Linked DNA regions of Homo sapiens: region 1 is linked to region 2. A link means that fine-mapping ties the variant in region 2 to the expression of a gene that starts in the linked region. Tissue or cell type: whole blood. Region 2 holds a variant in brackets; the other region holds the start of a gene. All regions are shown on one strand. Distances are between the middles of the regions.

Region 1 (2,763 bases), 55 kb after region 2:
CGGAAGCACAGCTAAGGAAGCAAATCTCACAGACCCCAACATTGCCACAGAACCTAAGTGTTCTCTCTGATTAATATTAGCCTATGGTCCTAAATACTTGCTCTTAGCTGGGGCAATAAAGCGAGGGTGGTTAAAAGGCATATTATTTTAAACTGGCCCTGACGTTGATTCTGTTTTTCCCAGTCAGCTAATGTTACCATTTTTCTAAGTTGCATCCTGTCCCTCGTTGCATTTTGGTAGATAACATCTCTGGTTTCATTCTTACAGAAAGATTTGCTACGGGAAAGGAGAAACACGTTACCTCTCAGAGCATGGCTTCCATGGCTGATCTGAGATAGCCTCCAGCTCTTTGCTATTTTGGATACTGGGAAGTCAGATATGTGTATAAATACATGGACTATTGGCCCTTGTAAATCTCATTGAAAAATGCTACCCTTGGGTGGCTGATCAGTAGAATTGCTATAAATAGTAGCTCTATCAAATACCTTGATATTTCAATTATATTATATACAAATAAAAAACTTGGCCTAATAAAACATACATATATATGTGTATATATATACCACACATACTTGGGCTAATATGTTCTAACCAATTCACACTTTCAGTTTAATTAGGTTCATCACTGGGAAAAAAAACAGTTTATAAAGCAATAAATTTTCTTATAAATGTTTTTCTGTTTAGTAGAACATGGATTGTGGACCTGGTTTCTGACAGCCATTTTGAATTGTAGTAAATATTTTGACAAAAGCAACAGCAGTATTAAGCACATGAGAGAATTACTTGAACTGGGTCACACACAGTTTTACGTAGCATTTTCCCTTTAACTGCGTGCTTGAAGATAAATATATCATTAAGAACATAGAGTAAAAGAGTTTTTTTTTAACTGACATTTTATATATGCTTATGTCATGGAGCATGTTACATACCTTTATAAACAGTGGAGTGTTTTCAGCCAATGATGCTCTGATTCAAACACAATGATCTGGTTGCCCAGAGAAGACACCCACAGGTCCAGAAAGGACCACTGGGCTGGCCCCACAGAGAAGAGATGAGCTCAAGAGCCCGTGCTCTCACTCTCTGTAGGGAGCTCGCTACTCTTTGCTGAGAGGGCATTTTAGTGTTCTCTCCCAGTTCCTACTCTGCAGGCAGCATCTCAGAGAACGGAGAGATGCTCCCTGAGCCTTAGAAAATAAAATAAAATAAAAGAGGGCAGCCTCCTGTGGCTTGGCCTTTATGTCAAGTCCACGTTTAACTGAGAAAAGCACCATTTCAAGCAACCTGGAAGAGACTCAAGCAGAGATAAAACTTGGTATGGCCCAGAAATAGGAAGTAAATTATTTCCTATACATTACCTAACGTCACGGTAGCAACCCTTAGAAAACAGGAAGAGATAGAAGCAGACACGAAAAAAAAAAAAAAAGAGCCACCGCTCAGCTCTTTAGTAATTGTTACTATTGACCTAACAACCTATAAAGAGCTTGCTGCCCAGAAATGTAGGTGTGCAAAAAAACATTGCATTAGAGATGAGGTTGTTCTGTGCAGGCAAGTTTAAGAATTAGAGCCTAGGTGGTCGTTTTCCTGGAGATGTGGATGGAACAAGTGTTTGCAGAACCTCCACATGTAACCCCAGAGGTTCCTGAGGGCCCAGAATGAGCATTTCCACTGCAATTGACTATGGTGGGAGGTCCCAGTGAAAGATTTCTGCGATGCTGTCTTTATGTAAAATGGTGATATTTTGTTCAACATGGATTTGTTTGAATTAGGTTTTATTTTTAAGATATGGCACTGATCACTCTATTCAACATAGTACTGAAAATCCTAGCCAGAGCAATCAGGCAAGAGAAAGAAATAAAAGGCATCCAAATAGGAAAAGAGGAAGTCAAGTTATCTCTCTTCACTGATGATATGATTCTATATCTAGAAAACCCTAAAGTTGCCACCAAAAGACTCCTAGACCCAATGAATGACTTCAGTAGTTTAAGGATACAAAAATCAATGTACAAAAATCAGTAGCATTTCTATACACCAGTAATGTTCAAGCCGAGAGCCAAATCAAGAACACAATCCCATTTACAATAGCAACACACACACACACACACACACACACACACACACACACCTAGGAATACATCTAACCAAGGAGGTGAAAGATCTCTACAAGGAGAACTACAAAATACTACTGAAAGAAAACAAACAAATGATAAAACACTCCATGCTCATGGATTATAAGACTCAATATCATTAAAATGTCCATACTGCTCAAAGCAATTCAACACTATTCCTATCAAATTACCAATGTCATTTTTCACAGAATTAGAAAAAAACTATTCCAGAATTCATATGGAACCAAAAAGGAGCCCGAATAGCCAAAGCAATCCTAAGCAAAAATAACAAAGCCAGAGGCATCACATTATCTGACTTCAAACTATACTACAAGGCCACAATAACCAACACAGCATGGTATTGGTATAAAAATAGACACACAGACCAATGGAACAGAATAGAGAACCCAGAAATAAAGCTGCACACCTAAAACCAACTGATTTTCAACAAAGTCAACAAAAATAAACAGTGAAAGAAAGGACCCCCTATTCAATAAATGGTGCTGGGGAAACTAGCTAACCATATGCAGAAGAATGTTGAATAGAGTGATTAGTGCCACTCTAATTCCAGAATGAAACTGGACTCTTACCTCTCAATATATACAAAAATTAACCCAAAATGAATTAAATACTTAAATGTAAGACTTCAAACTATAAA
Region 2 (2,763 bases):
AACACATATTTATCTTTAAAATGCCCATATTTCAACCTTCTCCTTCAATGACTATATCGTCCTACCCACCCACCTGCCCACTGAACCCATCATTAGTGCACTACCTATTGTTGCCTTCCCACCTTCTGTCGGCACAGACATCAGAATTCTAATCATGGCACTCCGTTTCTACAGGAATCTATTAGTGATTGCTAAGGGAAACACTTAGCATTTTAGATAAATAAGTACATAGTAGTTAAGTGCTCCATTCCCAGCAGTTTAGAGTATATGGCAAAAATTCTTTATGATCGAGGGATGAAAGAAGGCATGATAAAGAGTGACGGCCTTCGGTTCTCCCACATGCCCTGCTGACATTCCTTTCTGCAGTGGGGGGCCGAATGGAGAAGCCTTTGGGGTGAGCGTCGGAAGCATGCCCCACCCCCTGCTATGCTCCTGTTTATGCTAGCACACTCTCCCCTCTCCGCTCCAGCAGGCCTTGTCAGGATCCCTCATTTGGAAGCTTAATCATATCAGCGAGCTCACCGCACTGCATTTGTAATGACTTGTTTACCAGTCTGTGCCGGCTCCCCTTGCCACACTGGGCTCTCCCTAAGGACAAGGGCCATGTCATGTTCTTGTTTGCCTCTCTTCCTGCTCCCACACATTGCCTGGCACAGAACAGGCCCCAGTAATTACCTGGGACCCTCAGGCCACGTGACTCTCATCTGTCTCACAAAGGTGTCTTGGTCCACCAACCGGTTCCTAACCTCCTTGAGGTGAGGGCTCAAGCCATCTTCTGTTCCTCTCCTCTCATGGGGCTTCAAAAGACACTCAGTGGCTCACAAATGCATACCTAATTGCATTAAGCCATGAGTAAGATGGTTTCCCCATGTCTGCATGGAGGAAGAGGGGACATCTGCTGTGATTACTTGCCTGACCCCCACTTCTTTAGGGGGAACCATCTCTCATTTACTCTTTTTATTTTGTATTTTTTATTTTGAGACAGAGTCTCACTCTGTCACCTAGGCTGGAGTGTAGTAGCGCGATCTTGGCTCACTGCAACCTCCACCTCCTGGGTTCAAGCAATTTTCTTACCTCAGCCTCCCAAGTAGCTGGGACTACAGGTGCATGCCACTACACCCGGCTAATTTTTATATTTTTAGTAGAGAGGGGGTTTCACCATGTTGCCCAGGCTGGTCTTGAACTCGTGACCACAGGTGATCTGCCCTCCTTGGCCTCCTCTTAATGGCTGTAGCAAAAAGATGGCCCCAACCCAACCCTCAGTACATGGACAGGTGCAGGACCCATACCTGGCCGCTCAACATCCCCAGTGACAGGGTCAAGGACAGCCACATGACCAAACCAGGCCAGTTAGATTGAGTTTAGGGACTCAGTTATATATA[T/A]AAAAAAAAAAAACAGTCACGCTAACACAAGCATGGAACAGCTGGGCAGGACCAGAGCTGCCCAGAGATGGAGAGAGACGAACACACCCACCTGCAGAGCCTCTGAACCCAGCTGAGCTTGAAGCAATTCTCTCTGTTCTGTGAGATAATGAATTGGGTTCTGTTTGTTTGTCTAAGCCAATTTGAATCAAGCCTCTTTTCCTCACACCTCAAAGAGTCCCTCCTAATACAGGCATGCAGAGTTTAAAGTTCTGCCTCCAGTAGCAACATTTCAAAATAAGATAACCAGGGAATCTGTTTGGGAATAATAAAAGCTTGAAAAAAGAAACACTGCTCTCATATTGGGAGCCCCAGCTTTGTGAGCCTTCTCATTTTATCCCGGGAGTCTGGACTATGGCCCCAAATCCCACCCTAACCCAGGAAGGGCTGAGAAATTCATCTCTCTGGCTTCTGTTTATAATGAGGAATGATGACTCTGCTCAGCCTCTGCCTAAAGCCTCACATATTACTATTTGCTCTCTCAGGCTCCTGGGAGGCCAGGGCTTCTCTGAGCTTTCTGGGAGGTAGCTGAGTAACACTGGGGCTTGGCAGCCTGCAGATCAACTCATCTCTTTTGCAAATTGCTAACTGGGTCTAATGAATTGGCTGGGCACAGAGGAAGGCCTTGATGTCCTTTGCAGTGACAGAGTCCCCCCAGAGCAGGCTGATCCATCGTGCCTCTGCTGAGGAACACATCTATTAATATTTGGTGAGAATATCAAATTGTGCCCAGTGGACATAACATCTGGTCAAGAGAAACTTACTTCTCTGTGATTTAAAAAAATAAATAAATAAATAAACGAGTCTTATCGTCCCTCCATGTTCTTTTTTTCTACTAGAGAATGCCAGCCTTCCACGGACAGAATGGATAACAGACCCCTAGTGAGAATCAAGGAGGGCTGGAAAGGCCCTCCCATCCACAGGCATAGAAGGTAGCATCTTTTACTCATCCAAGGGGAAAAGAAGAAAAAGTTTTATAAACTGGAGGAAAAGAGAGGTATTTAATATGCTACTGGTAGGGGTATAAACTGGGAAGCAATTTGAAAATGGCTATTAAAAATGTGCAACACAACACTCAAAGACCCAGCAATTTCTCTTCTTGGTTATTCCCTAGAGCAAACCCTGCCTGGGCTAAGGAGATATAAACAGTGTGTCCAAGGAGCATGATGCAAGTGTGAAACACTGGTGATGACCAAACTCTTCGTTAATAGGAGAATGGCTTCATAAATAAGAGTATTCCCACCCAGAGGGACTCTGTCCCTGCTCAGGAAGTTGAGACAGAGCTACATGTTTTCACAGTGTGGAACCACAAAACATTTTTGAGTAAAAAGAGCAAGTTGTG

Evidence for each region. PIP is the estimated chance that this variant, and not a neighbour inherited with it, causes the effect.
Region 1: it holds the start of ZNF831, and the variant in region 2 is fine-mapped to the expression of ZNF831 in whole blood (INTERVAL, PIP above 0.99).

The regions. Positions count from the first base shown.
Region 1 is chr20:59,162,374-59,165,136 of GRCh38, reverse strand. ZNF831 (zinc finger protein 831) reads right to left here and starts at 1,316. Exons shown (of 6, transcript NM_178457.3): 1 at 930-1,316.
Region 2 is chr20:59,217,228-59,219,990 of GRCh38, reverse strand. All of the region lies in intron 4 of ZNF831 (zinc finger protein 831), which reads right to left. Among named protein-coding and RNA genes, the nearest start is that of ZNF831, 55 kb to the right of the region's middle. The variant T/A (reference allele first, on the strand shown) is at 1,383.